Linked DNA regions of Homo sapiens. The protein of the gene in region 6 interacts with the protein of the main gene of each other region in a biochemical or structural test. Each region holds a gene or a part of one and is shown on either strand. Other genes may lie near its edges.

Region 1 (3,500 bases), on a different chromosome or scaffold from region 6:
CCGGCTAATTTTTGTATGTTTTTGTAGGGACAGGGTTTTGCCATGTTGGCCAGGCTGGTCTCAAACTCCTGGGCTCAACTGATCCACCCACCTCAGCCTCCCAAATTGCTAGGATTGCAGGCATGACCCACTGCGCCCAGCCAAGATCCCTTTACATTTGTTAAAAATTATCAAGGACCAGCTGGGCATGGTGGCTCACACTTATAATCCTAGCACTTTGGGAGGCCGAGGCGGGTGGATCAGTTGAGCCCAGGAGTTCGAGACCAGCCTGGCCAACATGGAGAAACCCTGTCTCTACTAAAAATACAAAAAATGCACTGGGCATGGTGGCACACACCTGTAATCCCAGCTACTTGGAGGCTGAGGCAGGAGAATCGCTTGAACCTGGGAGGTGGAGGTTGCAGTGAGCCGAGATCTTGCCACAGTACTCCAGCCTGGGTGACAGAGTGAGACTCTGTCTCAAAAAAAAAAAAAAAGTCAAGGACCCACACACCTTTTTTTAGTTACGTAGGTTATATCTATTGTTATTTACAATATGAAACTTTTTTTTTTTTAATTTTTGGAGAGAAGTCTGGCGCTTGTCCCCCAGGCTTGAGTGCAATGGCTCAATCTTGGCTCACTGCGACCTCTGCCTCCCGGGTTCAAATGATTCTCCGGCCTCGCCTCCCGTGTAGCTGAGACTACAAGTGTGTACCACCATGCCCGGCTAATTTTTGTATTTTTTAGTACAGATGGGGTTTCACCATGTTGGCCAGGCTGCTCTTGAACTTCTGACTTCAGGTGATCCACCCGCCTCGGCTTCCCAAAGTGCTGGGGTTACAGGCATGAGCCACCACACCCGGCCTACAATATGAAACTTTAAAATGTATTAATTAATTTTTAAATAGTAAACCCACTACATGTTAAGATAAATTACATGTTTTTCTTAAGAATAAGTTTATTTTCTACAATAAAAACGTTTTAGTGAGGCCAGGCATGATGGCTCTCACCTATAATCCCAACACTTTGGAAGGCCAATGCAGGAGGATCACCAGGAGTTTGGAACCAGCCCTGGTGACATAGTGAGACTCTGTACAAAAAAGAAATTTATTTATTTATTTATTTATTTTTTGAGACGGAGTCGTGCTCTGTCACCCAGGCTGGAGTGCAGTGGTGTGATCTCAGCTCACTGCAAGGTCCGCCTCCCAGGTTCACGCCATTCTCCTGCCTCAGCCTCCCGAGTAGCTGGGACTACAGGCGTCCGCCACCACGCCTGGCTAATTTTTTTGTATTTTTAGTAGAGACAGGGTTTTAACCATGTTAGCCAGGATGGGCTCAACCTCCTGACCTTGTGGTCCACCTGCCTCGGCCTTCCAAAGTGCTGGGATTACAGGTGTGAGCTGCTGTGCCCTGCCATCTGTACAAAAAATTTTAAAATCAGCTGGGCATGGTGGTGTGCACCTATAGTTCCAGCCACTCAAGAGGCTGAGATGGGAGATTTTCTTGAGCCCAGGAAATTGAGGCTGCGGTGTACCGTGATCACGCCACTGCACTCCAGCCTGGGCAACAGGGTGAGACCCTGTCTTTAAAAAAAGCAAAACGAAAAACAACCTTTTAGTGAGAAGAGTGGCATTGTTTTCATTTTTGCAAGTCTCTTTAATGTCTGGCTTAATAGAAGACAGTTGGATTCTCATCTGGTTCTGCATTCAGTCTGTCAAATATGTTGTTTTGGTTTAAGTTCATGAGGAAAACTCTTTTTTTTTTTTTTTTCAGGCTTTAATCAATTTAATAATCAATATAATATTACATGCATAGTTCTTCAAAAATGTCAAGGAAAACTCTTTCCCATGGATTTTAACTGCTTGAATTCAGAGCATAGAAAACAGAAGAAAACTTGAGTGCAATATTAATAAAGACCCTTTAAAAAAGATGTTATATAAAAAGAAAAATCGCAAGCCAGTGAAAAATACATGCAAAATTCTAAATAACATTTTAGCAAACAAAATCTATGCTTAAAAGCATAACACACAAAAAAGTGAGATTTTTCCCTAGTATGTAACAGTAATCAGACATTTTATCAAGACATTTACAAATAAGCCTAAAAATAGATGTCTGAGTGCTATTTATGAAATTCAAGATCTATTCCTCCCATCCAAGCACTAACCAGGCCAACCCTGCTTAGCTTCCGAGATCAGACAAGATCGGGCGTGTTCAGGGTGGTATGGCCAGAGGAAAACTCTTCACACAGGTATGTAGCTGGAAAAAGGAGGGAAATTTTAGTAGTCTTTTCAGCCACTTGTGGCTATTCTTTGATCCTACCCCCAGTTTAAACAAGTGGTGGTTTCTTAAAGGTTAATTGCAGTGTGGAATCTGAAATCATATCAGTGAATTCTTGATACTATTTCGTTAAAATCCATTAGTCTACCTTGCACTCATACTCATGCATGATTTTTTAGCGTATTTGGAAAATACTGGTTCACTGAGTTACACAGATATTCCAAGTGTCACATTTTCATGTACACATCATCACTCATCATATTGCATCTGGAAAAATCTTCTTTTCACTCGTGACTGAAAAGGATGAAAATGTCATAGTAGTATAATAAATGTACTGTGACCTCTCAGATCCTCTAGAGGGAACCCATAGGAGTCTCTGGAACACTCTTGTAGAACCGCCAGATAGAACTCCTAAATACCCTTTACCCCAGATTCAGGCTCACCGATTTTTTATCTTTTGCCCCATTTGCTTTATCATTCTTTGTGTGCATGTGTGTGGGCACTCCCACGCACTCTGAGTCATTTGAGAGTAAATTGTAGATACACCCCTTCACCTTGTTTCAGTATGTCTTTACTTCAAACCATGGTCCTGTTGTTCCCTGGGGACATGTGGCAGGGTTGTCACAGTGAGGGGTAGGGGTACTCCCTGCATCAAGAGGCCAGAGATGCTGCTAAAAATCCTACGATATACAGAACAGCCCTCCAAACAGAAACTTTCTCAGCCCAAAATGTTAGTCATACCGAGGTTGAAAAACCCTGCCTTAAGAGTATTCTCTAACATGACCACAGTACAGTTTTCAAAATCAAGAAACTTAATACTGATTCAGTATCTAATGCACAGTTTATATTCACATTTTAGATATTATCCCAATAACCTTTGAACTATACCCCACCCAAACCACCCCCCGACCTGGGCACAGGTTCACATGTTGTACTGTCATGAGTTTTGTTTGTTTGCTTGTTTGCTTGCTTGTTTTAAGACCAGGTTCGCAGGCCAGCCACAGTGGCTCACACCTGTAATCCCAGCACTCTGGGAGGCCAAGGTGGGTGAATCACATGGGGTCAGGAGTTCGAGATCAGCCTGGCCAACATGGCAAAACCCTGTCTCTGCTAAAAATACAAAAAATTTAGCTGGACATAGTGGCAGGCACCTGTGATCCCAGCTACTCAGGAGGCTGAGGCAGGAGAATCGCTTGAACCCAGGAGGTGGAGGTTGCATGAGCTGAGATCGTGCCATTGCACTC
Region 2 (3,080 bases), on a different chromosome or scaffold from region 6:
TTGTATTTTTTGTAGTAGAGATGGGGTTTCACCATATTGGCCAGGCTCGTCTCAAACTCCTGACCATGTGATCTGCCCGCCTCAGACTCCCAAAGTGCTGGGATTACAGGCATGAGCCACCAAGCCCGGCCAGCACCACCTACAATCGTTTTTTTGAGACAAAATCTCACTGTTGCCCAGGCTGTAGTGCAGTGGCACGATCCCGGCTCACTGCAACCTCCGCCTCCTGGGTTCAAGCGATTCTCTGCCTCAGCCTCCTGAGTAGCTGGGATTCTAGGCGCCTGCCACCACACCCGGCTAATTTTTTTGTATTTTAATAGAGATGGGGTTTCACCTTCTTGGCCAGGCTGGTCTCGAACTCCCGACTTCATGATCCACCCGCCTTGGCCTCCCAAAGTGCTGGGATTACAGGCGTGAGCCACCGCACCGGGCCCGCATCTGCAATCCTATAATGACGAGCCGTTGAGCTAACTGTAAGTCATTAGCCAATCTGAACCATCTTTGAATCCAAGTAGTTTTACCATCTTTTATTATAAACACCATCACATTTCAAGTTTCCTCTTTTTGATCACAAATATAGGACTTTTTCTTCTCCTCTTAAGTATACAGCATGAGACACAGCGTTGGGGCTTTCCAGGTTTCTTACAGAAATTTCCTTACGACAAACTTAGGGTTAGCATCCACAGACCATGCTCTCGGTCACATCCTTCGACATCTGGATTGCCCAAGACGGTTGCACAGGATGCAGACTCCAAAGAGGATGAGGTTGGTACATAACGTTTTGAATTCCAGGATAACCTGAAACAGAGGCCCCTCCACTGCCCACATTAAAAGGCTGCACAACCAGGAGGGCGCCACTTTCTGAGTGTGGGCTTAGAGCTGCTGCTCTCGGGCTCTAGCCCCACTTCTTGTTTGAACACATGGCTCAAGGTTTCCCTACGGGTGGAAAAGATGAAGAGGACACTGGAGGTTAAGAACCCAGCAGGCCGAGCAGTGGCAGCAATCTCCACCGGAGGCCCGGCCTGTGCTTCCCCTCCTGGGATGGGGTGAATGGGGGCTGGTCAGGGGTGCCAGATGGTGGTCTTATTTTTACTTGAATTATTCTGCATTTTATAACTCAAGGTTCAAAGCTCTGTGCTAAAACTAGATCGGACCTTTCCAACTTCTTAGAAAGGTTCCTCGAATTCAGATTCCCAAACCAAGTATTCAGCTATTTAAAACCTATCTGTGAATGTAAGGGCCCAAACGGAAGCTATTTGGGGCGTGATTTCTAAAATTACCATCACCCCCACCTAGACCAGCCTTTGTTGGGGGACTAGGGATAAAGTGGGTTCTCTGGGTGCTGGGGGTGGTAGACTTAGGGGATGAACTTCAGCTCCCCTGCCCATGGTCCTCCTCTCAGTTTTACGGTTTTTGTGAACTTGTCTCACCCACTCAGTAAGGGAGCCTGGAACTGGACTCCAAGGGAGGCAGGACCATGTGGCTAAGTGCAAGTATCCCCCGAAGTGGGGGACCTTTCTCACTGTAACAGGGACCGGAGCTGGTGCTCCAAGGTGTCTGTCCCTCAGCATTTCCTCAAACGCCACACGGGACATGCTGCGCGGCAGCGGCAGGATTTGGGGGGAAGTCAGAAAGCACCTCGCGAGCCTGGAGCACTCTCTGCCTCAGATTCTGGGAGTCGTGTACGGGGGGGGGGAGCCGCCTGAACACGGGAAGAAGCGCCGCCTCTGGGGGTGGCAGCTACGACGGACAGGGAGGATGGAGGAGTGGGCCAAATGCAGTTTCAGACCAACTGACGACCCTAACTGTGTGAGCGACAATCACCTGTGAGCCTCGAATGTGTGGGGCCAACGCTGAGCCGCCCACCTCAGTCGCCCACCTCAGTCTCCGGGAAGAAAAGCCTCCGGGCGGCCGCTAAGCCTGGGCCACAGTTCCCAGCCACCACCCACGCCGCCACAACCACAACCGCAGCCCCAGCCTCTCCGCTATGAGCGAACAACCAGAACCATGTCTTACAAAGAACAGACTCAAAAAATATATATAAATAAATAAAAACCTTAAACATTCTTACAGGGATCTTAAAGAACAGAATACATGTTAAAAACCTCAGTAATTTATATCAATTTTAAGCGGTACTTTATATACAATGGGGAAAAAACACATGCATAGTCCAAATACAATGTTGAAAACAGCATTTTCATAACAAAAAACCCCGAACACTAAGTGTTAATACCATGTACATGAATTCAAGAAGGACCACCCTTTTTGTCTGTTGCACACAGTTTATTTAACAATATGATATAAGAAATGAGTTGGTATTTTACCATTCTATACAGTGATTGAATCTTCTCGAGTTTCGTATTTATAGGAATTAGAGCGCTTGCATGATTTACACTAGAATTGCTTTTCCTCATTTCAAGTTTCACATAGAAGAAAGAAAAGAAGGCTTCTTCTCTAGTAACATTAGCATGGTCTAAGAGTGATCATCCCTATTTTTTGTCTAAAACCAGTTTTATCAGAGAAACAAAGCAACAATTTCTACATCTGCAAGACAAGTTTGGCTTCAGCCATTATGTATAGATAGATGTGTGTGGGTGTGTACGTGTGTGCACGCCGGAGTCAATTCCTATCATCCAGGGTAATACTGGGAGACGCCCACAGAGTTCACTATAGAAAAAAATCTTCCCGAAACATCACAAAGTTATCGGGATACATTATAAGCTTGCATTATTTCAGGAATCAGTTCTGAATATTATTTTTCTTCTTACTTTTAAACATAAATGTTTAAAGTCTTGAAAATACAAATAAAAAATATGAATATAATGAACTTGTTTTTCCCGTTAAAAAAAGGCATGAGTCACCAGCAATGACGACAAAAAGAATCCAAACAAAACCCCCCTCCCCCCAAACAAAAACAAAACGGAAAAAAAAGAACCCCCCCCACCCCCCCGCCAAAAAAAAACCAAAGAGAGAGACCAGATATTTAAATCAACTGGTTTTTAACAAAAAAATATATTCTTTGTATTGTTTCTTTAAACATCAATCCACCCTTCCATGGCTCGGAAGTCGCAGTTCCATCT
Region 3 (3,500 bases), on a different chromosome or scaffold from region 6:
TTATGATAAGTACAGACTTTGCAGAGTATCTGGTATAATACAGGCACCTAATAATGTTATTACCAAGTGCCATTTGAATGAATGACTACTACTAATTGCTACAATTGTTACCACTATAATTGGCTAAGATAAAAAATAATCGAGAATAATAGTCTCAAGTATATTATAGTTAAGAGCAGGGAGAGGCATGAGCAATCTCTTGTTATTATTGCTATTAAAGAAGCCATTTGTTCTGTTCAGGGCTTTAAAAAAGTCCAATGGGAATAAGGCAGTGAGAGAGGAGATTCATGGAAATCTTTGCCTGCAAGGACAGAGAATACTCATGTGGTACTTTTTGGCTGGCAGTAGTGACCTCCTAGCTGGTGAAATAGAGAAGGCGGAGATGTTGAATATGGAGGGGAGGGTTATGGAAGGCACTCAATGATGTGCAGGCTAGGCTGATGCTTCCTCATTCGATGAATAAAGATAGCATTCTCAGCTAAATTCAGCTCCTTCAGTGTCCTCTCTGAGGCTTGGATAGGAGTTAAAAGCCCGACCTGCTGGATCTTCATCTGATCTCTTTCCTCAGACCCCCGGCAGTGGACAGAAACCCATGTTCGGGACTGGGTGATGTGGGCTGTGAATGAATTCAGCCTGAAAGGTGTAGACTTCCAGAAGTTCTGTATGAATGGAGCAGCCCTCTGCGCCCTGGGTAAAGACTGCTTTCTCGAGCTGGCCCCAGACTTTGTTGGGGACATCTTATGGGAACATCTAGAGATCCTGCAGAAAGGTAAATATGTGGAAACAGAGAGAGGTGGAGGTTATGTGGGGTTGCTGTGAGAGTAGGTAGGGGGCTCACCCAATGGTGGGACGTCAATGCCTTTATCTGTGGGTGTCCTACTGTAGGACGTATGTGGGAATGTGCCTAGTACACTGCTCAGCATACAGCAGGTACTCTTAGATGAGTGTAATTTCTTTTTCTTCTACATATTGGGGGTTCAGATATTAATCTTCAGCAAGATTGTACCACTGAAGCTTCTTGGATTGCAACATTCTAATCCAGGTCCTTATCTCAAACCCATGCCCTGGTTGAACAAGCAGTGCCCACAGCCAACCCAAGAATAGTTTTTGTTTTTGTTTTTGTTTTTGTTTTCTGCAATCTTAATACACACTGCCTTGATGCATGCCCCATAATACCTCATCACATCCCGGGAAAGCTTAGCGTCTGAGACCGTATTAATAAGACAGATTTCTCTGCCCACTAACTGAATTGGAATTGCAGTAGTGCATCATACCTTTTACATCTGGAGCAGGAACTGGGGTTATATCAGGACGCTATGTTGCAACCTTATAATGACATGGCCTCCCCTAACAGCCTCTTCCAACCTTTTTGGACCAAGTGACTCATGTACCACAGTCCTGGCTGAGTATAGAAACAGCAGCAGGCGGCAAACTTGGGTGTTTTTGTGCTTATTTTTTTGAATTTTTTCTTAAAATAAATTGCAGTTACCAGCAGTCAGCAGTGCCCTTCAGCTGACTGTAAGCCTAGAAGCCCATTGCCCTCTCTAACCCAGGCCCATCCTTTCCCTGTGGTCATCAGCTCTAACCCTTGGCACAGACGCTGGGGGAGGGGAGCAAAACTCAGGATTAGCACTTTTACCCCGCATTATACCTTCCTTTGGTTAAGAATATATTCCATTCTGCAGTGCTCAAGAGAGACCCAAACTAGATTTCTCTGTGCTCAAAAATGTTATCTTTATTCCTTCTTTTCACTTTCTGTTGAAAAATAAGACATAAAGGAATACAGGAAAGAACTAGGTGAGTCTTTCTGTGGCTGCTTTTACCGAGGATGGCAGGCAGTTGCAAAGCACCGGCATGTTCTCCATGCACAGACACCCACTCATAGGTGTTGACATGAGCGACCTGTTTATAGAGGGAAACGATACGGCAGGCTCCTAACAGATCTGATTTGACTGTTGACTTCTAAACACAATAGCAGATTCAATCAGACTGTGTAACCCAGTATATTCTACTAAGAGGCTGTTTTCCTCCATTTATCAAAATGGAGCTGCTAGGTGTTTTGGGCTATCTAAGCCCATCTCTGATTGTAGTTACAATTAATATCTCTATCATGTCTCCCTGTTTCCAAAGTGCTTTCAAATACATTTTCTCTTTGGATTATCAAAATAACTGTGAGATAGTAAGGACAAGTCCTATTATTGTCCTTGTCTGTAAAATGAAGCTCAGGGTAGGCGATTTCTTCAGTATCACTCATCTCCTTTTCTTCATTTTATTTCAACTTTCAGTATATTTTTATTTTATTTTATTTTATTTATTTTTTGAGACAGAGTCTTGCTCTGTCACCCAGGCTGGAGTGCAGTCGCGCGATGTCGGCTCACTGCAACCTTCGCCTCCTAGGTTCAAGCGATTCTCCTGCCTCACCCTCCTGAGTAGCTGGGACTACAGGCGCATGCCACCATGCCTAGCTAATTTTTGTATTTTTAGTAGAGTCAGGGCTTCACCGTGTTGGCCAGGATGGTCTTGATCCCTTGACCTCGTGATCTGCCCACCTTGGCCTCCCAAAACACTGGGATTACAGGCGTGAGCCACCGCGCCTGCCCTCAATATATTTTTATTTAACTTAAAATTTAACATCCCATCCTGTGCTTTTTGTATAATAATGTGGATTCACAGGGGCCTTCTGGCCGCTAAGACTGGTTTGGCCTCACTTAGGGTAAAGGAATAATGTAAGAAAATTTAAGAGAATTAGGATATAAGTCAGTATGTTTGAGAGCAAAAGTCATATCTTCCCACCCAATATTCTGTTGAGAGAGGCAGAAAGAATTCTCCCTCTTCAGGTTCAGTTACTTGAAGAGATGAGCATGATGTTTGTGCTGAGGCTACAGCTTTTGTTCTGTAATTAAAGCAACACAGCAGCAAAAGAACATAGCTGTTTGGGGTGGGGTGGAAGGTGAAAGGTACGGGGATGTTTCAATCTGATAAACTGCTAAAGCAAAGTTTAATCATTTTATCTCAACTGGGAACTGTTTTTCTGTGCAGGCATAAACTTGTTTTCCCATCAGACTTTGCTCCTAACAAGCTATCAAATACCTGAGGAAAAACCCAAACCCATACTCTATGTCAGATTCTTATGGTGAAATATAATCAGACTACTCCATACAAGAATCGGAGCCATGGCATTTGTTCCAGGGTAATTAGAGGATCCCAGGCTTACTGCAGGGTCGTTCAGAGCTTTCTGTCCGCAGGTGCACTTCGTCTCCCTTCCTCTCCTTTTCCTAGGGGAGTTGGCATCTGGGCAGGAGCTTGACTGGGTTGCTCTTCTCTCCCTTGACACAAGCGCAGTCGCATTTCACCAAATGGAGTCACCTTACCAGTGTCCTGCTTCTTGTCTGGGCCTGAACTTGAAACCTGAGGGCAATGGGAAAAATACAAAACAAAAACCAGACATCTGTTAGAGGAAATGGAGAACGTAAAATCTATGGCCTAAAGACTGCAATATA
Region 4 (3,500 bases), on a different chromosome or scaffold from region 6:
CGGCCCACGTGTACATGTTTTGGTTTCCCCATTTATCCTATCTAAAGTAGCTCTACTCTTATCTCTTACTTTCTCTTCTCTCACCCTACTTTCTCTTGTTAGCTTTTACTGCTTCCTGAAAAAATACTTGTCTGTTTGTTAGTTGTGTCTCTTGCCAGTTAGACTGTAGGCTCCAAGGATGCAGGGATTTGGTCTGTCTTGTTTATTGATGTTACCTCAGCACCAAAGTGCCTTCTATGTATCAGGTACTTAATGAATAATTGTCAGTTGAATGAATATACACAGTATATTTATTGTATACAAGCATATACAATGGTCATGGAGTTCCACTTTGAGTTTATAAGGCTGGTTTAGAAAATCTTCCTTAGAGTTCAGGAGAAGTCTGGATAGTGTGAACAAGGTAGTTTGCCCCCTGCCTTCATAGTTGGAGCATGGACTGGCTTCATAACTTCATTGTAGGGGATTTTCTAGTCCCCATTTAAAAGTGAAAAATAAGGCCAAGTGCGGTGGCTCAGCCTGTAATCCCAGCACTTTGGGAGGCCAAGGCGGGTGGATCACCTGAGGTCAGCAGTTCGAGACCAGCCTGACCAACATGCTGAAACCCTGTCTCTACTGAAAATACAAAAATTAGCCGGGTGTGTTGTTGTGCGCTTCTAGTTTCAGCTACTGGGGAGGCTGAGGCATGAAAATCACTTGAACCCAGGAGGTGGAGGTTGCAATGAGCCGAGGTTGCACCAGAGCCAGATTCTGTCTCAAAAACAAAACAACAAAAAAAGTGAAAAATAAAAGGGACAAAATTAACTACAAAGTTATTCAGTTAAACGGGGAGATAATGCAAGTAGCTATAGGAAAATCCCAAAGACCCAGTAAATAAATAAGCACTACAGCAAGGCGGGTAGCAACTTTTGTCTAAGTTAGAAATAGCTGAGAAGACTAAAACATGTGCCACATGATTCACCAGGGACTGCGCAGGAGAGGGTCACTGAGGTTTTATTATTCCTCTATTTGCAGCTTCCAGATGGGTCATCTAGTCAGTTGGCTCCCACCAGAGGCTCAGCTTCCAGATCAAGATTAACTGCTTTTTACCACATCAGGGCAGAGGACACCTGTCCTTGGTGTTATTTTCTTTGAAGTGCAGCATCCACATATCACACACATAGCTTTTGAGAGTCATTATTATTACAGTTTTCCAAGAAGCATTTTTAAATGTCTTCTCATGATTGTTGAGGTTTTCCTAAGAGGACACTTCACATTCTTTTTTTTTTTTTTTTTTTTGAGACGGAGTCTTGCTCTGTCGCCCAGGCTGGACTGCGGACTGCAGTGGCGCAATCTCGGCTCACTGCAAGCTCCGCTTCCCGGGTTCACGCCATTCTCCTGCCTCAGCCTCCCGAGTAGCTGGGACTACAGGCGCCTGCCACCGCGCCCGGCTAATTTTTTGTATTTTTAGTAGAGACGGGGTTTCACCTTGTTAGCCAGGATGGTCTCGATCTCCTGACCTCGTGATCCACCCGCCTCGGCCTCCCAAAGTGCTGGGATTACAGGCGTGAGCCACCGCGCCCGGCCGACACTTCACATTCTTATAGCAGAGTTATTTCAGTAGCCCATAGTGCTTTTTGAATTTAATTTAATTTAATTTTTTGAGACGGGGTTTCACTCTGTCACCAGGCTGGAGTGCAATGGCATGATCTTGGCTCACTTCAACCTCCACCTCCCAGGCTCAAGCAATCCGCCTGCCTCAGCCTCCCAAAGTGCTGGGATTACAGGCATGAACCACCCGAGCCTGGCCACTACAAGTCATTTTAAAACAGTGAGATGCTGCCTTTCTCATTATTTAATCTGAAAGAAAGTAAACTTTCTTGATCTTTGAAACGTTAAATCTTTAAGATACCATATGGGAATGTAGAAACTGTTTCTCCTTCTCTATTATATGGTCATTGGGAATGTAAGCAGTTATCCCACAGCCACATCTTTGTAGTTTAGAAAACTCACAGGAAGTATGTCAACAGCATATTTATGTTGGTCAGTGGATATAAGGGTGATGGATGTCTTTCTGAGTAATGTAACTTGAGTATCTTAATACCAATAAGATAAAAATATTTATTTCTGAAACTGTGACTTTTTTTTTTTTTAAGGTGGTCAAGGAGCTGGTCCTCCTCAAAACCAGATGCAGGTGTCCCACGGGCCGCCAAATATGATGCAGCCCAGCCTCATGGGAATTCATGGCAACATGAACAATCAGCAGGCTGGTACTTCTGGGGTTCCTCAAGTGAACCTCAGCAACATGCAAGGCCAGCCCCAGCAGGGCCCACCATCTCAGCTGATGGGCATGCACCAGCAAATCGTGCCCTCCCAGGGCCAGATGGTCCAGCAACAAGGAACCTTGAACCCTCAGAACCCTATGATCCTTTCAAGGGCCCAGCTTATGCCACAGGGCCAGATGATGGTGAACCCCCCGAGCCAAAATCTTGGGCCCTCGCCCCAAAGGATGACCCCACCCAAGCAGATGCTTTCCCAGCAGGGCCCACAAATGATGGCGCCACATAACCAGATGATGGGGCCTCAGGGGCAGGTTTTGCTCCAACAGAACCCAATGATAGAGCAGATTATGACCAATCAAATGCAGGGGAATAAGCAGCAGTTTAACACTCAGAACCAGTCCAATGTCATGCCGGGACCAGCCCAGATAATGAGGGGACCAACTCCAAACATGCAAGGAAATATGGTGCAGTTTACGGGACAGATGTCAGGACAGATGCTGCCCCAGCAAGGGCCTGTGAACAACAGTCCATCTCAGGTTATGGGCATTCAGGGACAGGTCCTGCGGCCACCAGGGCCCAGCCCACACATGGCCCAGCAGCATGGTGATCCTGCTACTACAGCAAATAACGATGTCAGTTTATCTCAGATGATGCCTGATGTTAGCATTCAACAAACCAACATGGTCCCCCCTCATGTGCAGGCCATGCAGGGAAACAGTGCCTCGGGAAACCACTTCTCAGGCCATGGGATGTCTTTCAATGCACCTTTCAGTGGAGCTCCCAATGGAAATCAGATGTCCTGTGGTCAAAATCCAGGCTTCCCAGTCAATAAGGATGTCACGCTAACGAGCCCATTGTTGGTCAACTTATTGCAGAGTGACATATCTGCAGGCCATTTTGGGGTAAACAATAAGCAAAATAATACCAACGCAAATAAACCGAAGAAGAAGAAACCCCCTCGGAAGAAGAAAAATAGTCAGCAAGATCTAAAGTAGGTTGTGATGGTTTTGCCTCAAATTTTATTCATTTGTTTTCTGTGTGGATAACTTTTTTGATGGAAAATTTTACAGAATATAAAACTAGAATAGTATAATGAAATCCCCCTGCTTCAATAATTATCAACTCATAGTCTGTCTTGCCTTCATCTGTACTCTCTTCCATTACCCTTTTGAGTATTTCAAAGCAAATTCGCTGGGTAAATATTTCAGTGTGTGTCTCTAAAAGATAAGGACACTTTTTAAT
Region 5 (3,500 bases), on a different chromosome or scaffold from region 6:
TTTTCCCCGTACATGAAGGGCAGTTGGGTACAGTCATGGTAATGCATTATATTTTAAGATTTTGCCTTTCTTATACAGAACAATCCCAGCCTAAAACTTACATACACAGAATGTCTGAGGGTTTGTGGCAACTGGTTAGCAGAAACGTGCTTAGAAAATCCTGCGGTCATCATGCAGACCTATCTAGAAAAGGTAAGATTTTTGGAGCAACCCTTAAGATAGTTACTTAGCATGAATATGCTTCATCTTTTCATCAAGATCAATATATTTCCAAAGCAAATAAAAGTATGGTTTTATTTTTCTATATATTATTACTGTTGTAGCTCTGTATAGTCTCTAGGGTGGAGTGAAACATTGTTACAAAACAAAGCAGCCAATTTTGAAAGTAAGCCCAAGTATAGTATCTCTTCTTCCTCCTTCCTACCTCCACTACCAGCTACCCTTTCAGCAGGTTGCTTCTGATCATTTCTTCATTTATGCATCTACAAAAATAACTGATTAAGAATAGGCAAGTCAGCCCTTGCTCTTCATTAGCCCAGCCACCCACAAGTAAAGGCTTCAATATACTAGCCCCTTTGACTTTCCTGTTTCTCCCTCTTATTCCTTTAGATTCACTAATTTTGGAAATAGTTACCTCACTAAATAAGTGTAACATGAAACACATGATGCGATTGTCTTTCTTTTCTTTTCTTTTCTTTGAGATGAAGTCTCTCTCTGTCGCCCAAGCTGGAGTGCAGTGGCGCAATCTCGGCTCACTGCAACCTCTGCCTCCTGGGTTCAAGCGATTCTCCTGCCTCAGCTTCCCAAGTAGCTGGGACTACAGGAGTGTGCCACCACACCCGGCTAATATTTTTTATTTTTAGTAGAGACGGTTTCGCCACATTGGCCAGTCTGGTCTCGAACTCCTGACCTCAAGTGATCCACCTGCCTCGGCCTCCCAAAGTGCTGGCATTACAGGCTTGAGCCACCACACCCAGCCTGATTGTCTTTAAATTTTATAAAGTTCTCTGTTTTTGCAGAGTTCTTTACAAGTATTAGCTGTCTGGGTTATTTCTACACTGTCAAAGTTGTTTTGAAAAGTCAAGAAAATACCATAGTTCAGGGCTGTCCAATCTTTTGGCTTCCCTGGGCCACATTGCAAGAAGAATTGCCTTGGGCCACACATAAAATATACTAACATTAATGATAGCTAATGAGCTTAAAAAAAATCACAAAAGAAATCTCATAATGTTTTAAGAAAATGTACGAATTTGTGTTGGGCCACATTCAAAGCCGTCCTGGGCCACATGCGGCCCATGGGCCGTGGGTTGGACAAGTTTGCAATAGTTCATATAATTTAGCTAGCTTTTATATGTATATAAGTTAAATTTTAGTGTATTACCTTAATTTGAGTGATTCTTTAGATGTATTTAGTATTTGTAAATATAATTTAAATTGGTTGTGTTTTCTTGAAGGCAGTAGAAGTTGCTGGAAATTATGATGGAGAAAGTAGTGATGAGCTAAGAAATGGAAAAATGAAGGCATTTCTCTCATTAGCCCGGTTTTCAGATACTCAATACCAAAGAATTGAAAACTACATGAAATCATCGGAATTTGAAAACAAGCAAGCTCTCCTGAAAAGAGCCAAAGAGGAAGTAGGTCTCCTTAGGGAACATAAAATTCAGACAAACAGGTAACTAGGTTTCTACAAGTGACAATTTTATGTTCACCAGTTAACTGAGTGAGTGTTTTTGCATAGAAAGAGTGACTTGGTCTTTTTATCTGATATAGTTTTGAGCTCTAAAGGTCGGCTTAACTATATATAGATTATCTTGGTCTTTTGGGTTCTTTTCGGTTTTTGTTTTTTGTTTTTTTTTTTGAGACAAGGTCTCACTCTGTCACCCAGGCTGGAGTACAGTGGCGTGATCACTGTACTCCAGCTCACTGCAACCTCGACCTCCTGGACTCAATTGATTCTCCCCCTGAGCCCCCGAAATAGCTGGGGCTACAGGTGCACGCCATACCTGGCTAATTTTTGTATTTTTTGTAGAGATGGGGTTTTGCCATGTTGCCCAGGTTGGTCTCAAACTCATGGGCTCAAACGATCTGCCCACCTTGGCCGCCCAAAGTGCTGGGATTACAGGTGTGAGGCACTGTGCCCTGTCTGTCTTGGTCCTACTGTAGTTAATCACAAATTAGTATGTAAGATATTGACGTGTTCTTTTGTGAATAATTCATGCTCTGCTTCTAAGTTCATTGTGGAGAATATAGATATTAGCTTTCTGTTTTGCTTTTTTGGTTTGTTTGTTGGTATCATAGTGGAAAAGGAGATAGATATTGAAATTAATTACAAAAGTTACCTATTTTGATGTAATTAAATCCCTTTATTTAAGCCTGTCTTGAATCTGTATATTTTAGTGTAAGCAGAGGTGTAAGTTAGCTAAATAGCTTGGGGAGAGTCCCCTTTGTCCTTTGATGCTTAGGAAGGTGTGTGAATTGCACAGTTAAGACAAAAGTAAGTTTATTCCCTTTATAATCCTTAGAAGTTTGCTTTTTTCCCTGGGATAAAAACCCAACTTTTTTCATTAAATGTTGTATATCATGTGTGATTTTGTAGTTCTGTTAAAGTTCATGGCTTTTGTGTTTTACCTTAATTATTCTATGCAAGATACACAGTAAAGGTTCAGCGAGAGCTGGAGTTGGATGAATTAGCCCTGCGTGCACTGAAAGAGGATCGTAAACGCTTCTTATGTAAAGCAGTTGAAAATTATATCAACTGCTTATTAAGTGGAGAAGAACATGATATGTGGGTATTCCGACTTTGTTCCCTCTGGCTTGAAAATTCTGGAGTTTCTGAAGTCAATGGCATGATGAAGGCAAGTGTTACTCAGCCCAATATTCTACCCTGTGCTTGAAAAACTTAGACATAAGCCCCTTGATGTCAGGAATCGTGTATACCTCTTTGTATTCCTAGCACTTGGTCCAGTGCTCTACACATAAGTAGCATTTTGTAGTTTTCTAAACTTTGATCCATATTTAGGATTATTTACAAGTTCTAGTCTTGTTTCTACAAAAGTTCCTTTGTATTATATAAGCTGACAAGCTGTAAATGATGCAAGTTTGTGTGGAGGTGATAGAATTTAGCTTGGTCCTATGTCTTTGCAGTTACCATAGGAGAGGGTCTAGAATGGGGCATTAGATTGGAGGATTTAGAAAGCAGTTAAAGATGATGTGATCACAGGTGGGTTTTCCCCCTGCTGCAGAAATATGGGATTTTTACAATAAATTACTTTTGTAAGTAGAGAAAATATATTTTTCAGAAAATGTCAAGACAGCAGTATTGTATAAGTTTTTCTTTGAAAACCTTAGATTATAGTGATGACACCTAATATTAAATTTAAGTTGACAAGCTATATATTGTTAGTCAATTTGAAGGTTAGAGATAAAATGTTTCTCCTGCAGGAAAATAATAAGACTCATAATAGATACAGTCAATCTCTGCTGTAGTATACACTAAATAT
Region 6 (3,500 bases):
ATTAAGATTTATAATGACAAATTCATTTCCATGTAGGAAACACTTGGAATAAAGAAAGTGTATATGAGTATATGATAGCCAAATTGACTGAGTTTTGTCCCTGGCACATAGTTAAGTGTGTAATCAATATTTTAGGATAGTTATTAGAAGCCAGATTATCAGGGGTCTACCACTTACTGTGTTATCTTGAGTAAATTATATAACCTCTCTGCCTCAGTTTCCTTCTCTTTAAGGAGAATAATTTAACTCATAGTCTTGCTGTGAGCATTCATGTGATATATATACAATACTTAATACAGTGTCAAGAACTTAATGAGTACTCAGTTTGTGTTGTGGGAATTATTATTGAAGTTCATTCAGAAATAATCTAGCCTAGCCCTCCAGGCATGCTTGTGCTGTAGCTTGAAAGCAGTACAGCAACCATCTACTTGGTAGCTTTGGCAACAAAGTTATTTTTCCCTAAGAATTTATAATTTGTGGAGGAACATGCCACCTTAGAATTTTCGTAAATTCATTTGAGAGAATGTCTCATATTTTTTTGTTCCATATGTACCCCTTCTCAGACATTTTCTGTATCAAATTCCTTCAGTATAGCATATCCTTATTTTAAGATGATAAAATTATGATACTGTGATTTTCATAAAATCCAATTATCTTTGTATTTTTGAGACAAAGTCTTACTCTGTCATGCAGGTTGGAGTGCAGTGATGCGACTAAGTCTCACTGCGGCTTCCACCTCTGGGGCTCGAGAGATCTTCCCACCTAAGCCTCCCAAATAGCTGGGACCACACTCACATGCCACCACACTCAGCTAGTTTTTAAATTTTTGTAGAGATGGGGTCTTGCCGTTGCCCAGGCTGGTCTCAAACTCCCAGGCTCAAGCGATCCTCCCACCTCAGTATCACAAAGTGCTGGGATTACAGGCTGCTCCCCACCCCAACTATTCTTTTCTTCTACTCCACCAATCCTATTATAAACATTCTAGGGAAACCTTTCATTTCTCCTTCCCCATAGTGGGATTGAGATTATGATTAAAATACCACAGTTCTAAAGTTGTTTTGAAGTCTCTGCTAATTATACAATTATAACTACACTATCAATTTTTGGCCACAAAGTTGAGAATCAGTGAAATATTTTATCATTTGTAAGGTAGGTTTTAATGATTGTTGATATATGGATGTTGGGTCGAGGGATATTTTTTGTAGTAATACACTTTACTTACTTGAATTTTGACATACTTTGAAAACGGAAGAAAGAGGTGAGCTTATCATTGTTTTAATGGGCATAGTACATAATCCATAGTCTTACTTTATTTCATTTTTAGAGACAGGGTCTCTATCACCCAGGCTGGAGTGTGGTGGTGCAGTCGTAGTTCACTGCTGCCTCAAACACCTGGGCTTCAGCAATCCTCCCACCTCAGCCTCCCGAGTAGCTGGGACTACAGGCATGTGCTACTATACCCAGCTAATTTTTTAATTTTTTGTAGAGATGGAGTCTCACTATGTTACCCAGGTTGGTCTTGAATTCTTGGCCTCAAGTAATCCTCCCATCTCAGCTTCACAAAGCGCTGGGGTTACAGGCGTGAGCCACCACACCAAGCCGGTAGTGTATTTTATTTGTGCCCTCTTCATAATGAGAAATTTTTATTGATGTATTTTTCATAATGGTGATGACTATGAATTACTGTAATTCTTGGAGAACTGAATTTCTATTTCTATTTTCTTTTTGCTTTTACAAAAAATAAGTTTCTCAGGAGAAAAAAAGCAATGAAAGGTATTTTATCACCTACCTTGGGCAAAAATAATGCTATGGACCTTAGACCACATAATTCTGTTACCAAATCTAAGGTGATGTTATTAGCACAACTTGTGCTACTGTTGTTTATATTCATAATTATTACTCTGTAAATTTTTTGTATTTATGTATTTGTTATTCTATTATAATTTTAAACTATAAAACTACTTGCTTTCTTTACATTGCCTAGGAATAATCAAGACTCACTTAAAAAATATTTAATTTAAAAATTGGACTACTGATATTTTAATTGAATATTTTTGAGATATTGAACTGATTTCACTCTTCACATACTCATAATACAGTCTGGAGAAGTTTGTGATACTTTTTACGTGTACCATCAACTTTGAGAAATTTCATCAAAATTTTAGTATACTCTTGGGAATTGTGTGAAGGACCTCTCTCATGTCTGCTGTGAGTGGGGGAAAAAATACTGCTGCTTTCCTTGTTAACATTGGGCTTAATATTTTTCTCTCAGCTGATGAATTTGAGTTACCTAAATTGATGAACTAAACATTATATATCAAATAAACTTACAGATAGCATCAGAATCATGGGTTAAAGATTAATATAAAACTTTTTTTTTTTTTTGAGACGGAGTCTTGCTCTGTCGCGCAGGCTGGAGTACAGTGGTAGGTTCTCAGCTCACTGAACCCTCCACCTCCCAGGCTCAAGCAGTTCTCATGCCTCAGCCTTTTGAGCAGCTGGAACTATAGTCTCCGCCACCACGCCCCGCTGATTTTTTTGTATTTTTAGTAGAGACGGGGTTTCTCCATGATGACCAGGCTGGTCTTGAACTCCTGACCTCAAGCAGTCTGCCTACCTTGGCCTCCCAAAGTGCTGGGATTACAGGGTTGAGCTATCATGCCTGGCCAAAACTCTTATCTAAAAGTCAAACTGAGTATGTAGTTCAGTTTCTGGCCTTAAAAATAAAGAAGATAGTAAGATTAGGTATTTATTAGGCATTAGAAAAATGTACATTTAAAGTCAAAGTAAAATGCAGTAAAATTTATGAACTTAATAAATACTATTTTAGTGTCATGCACTATTCTGTGTATTTTACATATGTTACTTTTATATATTTTGATAGCCCTGAAATGTATTTTTTTTTTTACTGTAGAGGATCATAGTGTAATCATACAATTTAAAATTTTCCTGGCCAGGGGCAGTGGCTCACACCTACAATCCCAGCACTTTGGGAGGCTAATACAGGAGGATCATTGCCTTGATTAATGGAGGCTTTAAGTCACTCTTATTTTAAATTATCCATTTAAAATATCCACTTGGGTTCCTGTAGAGATGACCTCAGTTTCCAGTGTTCCCCCCAGACGTTTGCTTCTTGCCGTAGGATCAGGAAGCTTTAAGGCACTCTTATTTTAAATTATCCATTTAAAATATCCATTTTAAGTTATCCATTTTAAAATTATCCCTGGATAATTTAAAATAAGAGTTTGAGCTCAAGGAATTCAAGACCAGCCTGGGCAACATCGTGAGACCGGTCACTCCAAAAAAAATTTAGCTGGGTGTGGTGGCATGTGTACCTGTGGTTCCGCCTACTGAGGAGGTTGAGGTGGGAGGATCACTTGAGCCCAGGAGATCCAGGTTGCAGTGAGCCATGGTTGGGCCACTGTACTTACAGAGCAAGACCCTGTCTCAAAAAAAAAAAAAAAAAAAATCCTGAATTCAAAATACTTTAGTCTTGAGAG
Region 7 (2,254 bases), on a different chromosome or scaffold from region 6:
CCTGGGCCCCACCCCAGGGCTTGTGACTCAGCAGGTCTGCAGTTGAGACCTTAGAATGTGCATTTGAATGAGGACCTCTCGCCCTGACCCAAGCCTAGTGATTCTGATGGATATCAGACCATAGTTCGAGACATTTAGTGGATTTCAGTCATACTTGATTTGTTGGGAGGCCTAAATCAAAAACCTATAGGAGGAGACTGGGGGGCTTCAGATGGAGTTTCACACTCATCTTACAGGTGTTAAAACTGAGGCTCAGAAAGCTTTTTTTTGTTTGTTTGTTTGAGACAGGGTCTGGCTCTGTCACCCGGGCTGGAGTTCAGTGGCACAATTACATCTTACTGCAACCTCAGCCTCCTGGGCTCAAGCCATCCTCCCACCTCAGCCTCCTAAGTAGCTGGGACTACAGGTCTGTGCCACCCAGGTGCACCAGGACTGCAGGTGGCTAATTAAAACATTTTTTTTCTTTTTTGTATAGGCGGGGTTTCTCTATGTTGCCCAGGCTGATCTTGAACTTCTGGACTCAAGTGATCCTCCCACTTTGGCCTCCCAAAGTGCTGGGATTATAGGCATGAGCCACCCTGCAGGCCCAGACAGCATTTTTAAGGCCTTGAAACTCTTCTGTATAATACTGTAATGGTGGATACCTATTGTGCATTTGTTACCATCTGTAGGACTGGATAACACAGAGTGAACCCTCAAGTAAACTATGGACTTCAGTTAATAATAATGTATCAGTATTGGTTCATAAATTGTAACAATTGTGCCACACTAATGCAAGATGTTACTCATCAAGAAAACTGAGGAGAGAGAAGGGGAGGAAGTAGGTGGGAACCTCTATACTTTCTACCAACCTAAAACTGCTCTAAAAAATAAACCACAGGCCGGTCGCAGTAGCTCACGCCTGTAATCCCAGCACCTTGGGAGGCTGAGGTGGGCGGATCACTTGAGGTCAGGAGTTCAAGACCAGCCTGGCCAACATGGTGAAACCCCATCTCTACCAAAAATACAAAAATTAGCTGGGCTTGGTGGTGCATGCCTGTAATCCCAAACTACTCGGGAGGCTGAGGCAGAATTGCTTGAACCTGGGAGGTGGAGGTTGCAGTGAGCTGAGATCACACCACTGCACTCCAGCCTGGGTGACAGAGTGAGACTCCATCTCAAAAAAACAAAAAAAACAAATACCCTGAGGACACAGAGACATTGGGTCAGACACCCACAGCTAGGAAGTGGTGGAGTCAGATTGGAACCCAAGTAGGCTTGAGCACTGTACCCAGCTTGGATTCAAGGGTTGCCCAGCCTTCCCTCTTCACGCCAGTCTGAGACCCTTACTGCTGACTGTGTCCATGGTCTCTGTTTTCTCTCCCACAGAATGGCCCTGCTGTCAAGGAGCTGGGGAGTCCTTGACTGGGACTGGCTAGTCTTGCCACAGCCCTGGCCTCGCTGGTTACTAAAACTGCCCCAGGTTCCCTGAGTCTACATCCCTCTAAGCCTCCTGAGAATTCTCACTGCCCCAAGGAAAAAGTCTAGCCTTCCTTCTTGGCCTGGCATTCAAAACCCCTTGTGTTCTCTCTAATCTCATCAGCTCCCACTGCCTCCCCTAGCTAGTCCTTATGTCAGTGTGGGACACCAGTCCTGGGATCCACCGTAAGGTTCATTCTGCATTCACAGGTTAAAGGTCTTGACAAGTCCTGCAGTAAAGAGATCCGTTCCTCATTTAATCCAGAACTTCCCAGATGTACTTAACCGCAGGACCCATTTTCTCCCAACAGCATGACACACATAGCCTTTTTTGCCCAGTGCAGCCCAGTGCACAGGTCCCGATATTGCCTCTCCCCAAGTAGGCTTGGCCTTCTTTTAGTGCCCGTGCGTGGAAGGCCCTCCATTCTCCTCTCCATTCTCCTTGGCCTTCAAGGCTCTACCTTAGGCCTCCCTCCAGGCAGCTGTTCTCCATCATCCCCCCTGGGCTGCAGGCCCTCTGTGGGCAGCATTTAGTGTGTGGTTTGGCCTCCCCTTCCCATTGCCCACTGTGAGCAAATACCTGTGCGTGAATGAATAATGAGTGAAAGATGTCCCAGGGGCCTGTCGGTCACTTCTTTGCCCCGACCAGGCCAATGTCATATGGAAGGTGGCAGAGAGCCCAGCAGGAAGCAGAAGTGGGCGGCCCTGGGCTGTACCTTTGAGCTGCTCTCCTGAAAATCTCTATTATTTCAGACTCCCAGACCCCACCCCCCGCTTCATCCTCTGGTGTCCTCCT

What was found.
Region 1: of the proteins of ATF2 (region 6) and MAPK1, one has a biochemical effect on the other in vitro, tested with the Homo sapiens proteins (3 studies listed by BioGRID).
Region 2: the proteins of ATF2 (region 6) and CREBBP form a complex in vitro, tested with the Homo sapiens proteins (2 studies listed by BioGRID).
Region 3: the proteins of ATF2 (region 6) and ETS1 form a complex in vitro, tested with the Homo sapiens proteins (one study listed by BioGRID).
Region 4: the proteins of ATF2 (region 6) and NCOA6 form a complex in vitro, tested with the Homo sapiens proteins (one study listed by BioGRID).
Region 5: of the proteins of ATF2 (region 6) and ATM, one has a biochemical effect on the other in vitro, tested with the Homo sapiens proteins (one study listed by BioGRID).
Region 7: of the proteins of ATF2 (region 6) and MAPK13, one has a biochemical effect on the other in vitro, tested with the Homo sapiens proteins (2 studies listed by BioGRID and IntAct).

Annotation. Positions count from the first base shown.
Region 1 is NC_000022.11:21,791,146-21,794,645, reverse strand, and holds part of MAPK1 (mitogen-activated protein kinase 1), read left to right. Parts: intron 1-3,500. UniProt on the Homo sapiens protein: Serine/threonine kinase which acts as an essential component of the MAP kinase signal transduction pathway. MAPK1/ERK2 and MAPK3/ERK1 are the 2 MAPKs which play an important role in the MAPK/ERK cascade.
Region 2 is NC_000016.10:3,724,554-3,727,633, forward strand, and holds the end of CREBBP (CREB-binding protein), read right to left. Parts: 3' UTR 501-3,080; downstream 1-500. UniProt on the Homo sapiens protein: Acetylates histones, giving a specific tag for transcriptional activation. Mediates acetylation of histone H3 at 'Lys-18' and 'Lys-27' (H3K18ac and H3K27ac, respectively).
Region 3 is NC_000011.10:128,486,559-128,490,058, reverse strand, and holds part of ETS1 (protein C-ets-1), read left to right. Parts: intron 1-568; coding exon 569-769; intron 770-3,500. UniProt on the Homo sapiens protein: Transcription factor. Directly controls the expression of cytokine and chemokine genes in a wide variety of different cellular contexts. May control the differentiation, survival and proliferation of lymphoid cells.
Region 4 is NC_000020.11:34,749,152-34,752,651, reverse strand, and holds part of NCOA6 (nuclear receptor coactivator 6), read left to right. Parts: intron 1-2,132; coding exon 2,133-3,249; intron 3,250-3,255; exon of another isoform or gene 3,256-3,500. UniProt on the Homo sapiens protein: Nuclear receptor coactivator that directly binds nuclear receptors and stimulates the transcriptional activities in a hormone-dependent fashion. Coactivates expression in an agonist- and AF2-dependent manner.
Region 5 is NC_000011.10:108,327,567-108,331,066, forward strand, and holds part of ATM (serine-protein kinase ATM), read left to right. Parts: intron 1-78; coding exon 79-192; intron 193-1,454; coding exon 1,455-1,672; intron 1,673-2,647; coding exon 2,648-2,855; intron 2,856-3,500.
Region 6 is NC_000002.12:175,158,204-175,161,703, reverse strand, and holds part of ATF2 (cyclic AMP-dependent transcription factor ATF-2), read left to right. Parts: intron 1-3,500. UniProt on the Homo sapiens protein: Transcriptional activator which regulates the transcription of various genes, including those involved in anti-apoptosis, cell growth, and DNA damage response.
Region 7 is NC_000006.12:36,140,513-36,142,766, forward strand, and holds part of MAPK13 (mitogen-activated protein kinase 13), read left to right. Parts: 3' UTR 1-2,254. UniProt on the Homo sapiens protein: Serine/threonine kinase which acts as an essential component of the MAP kinase signal transduction pathway.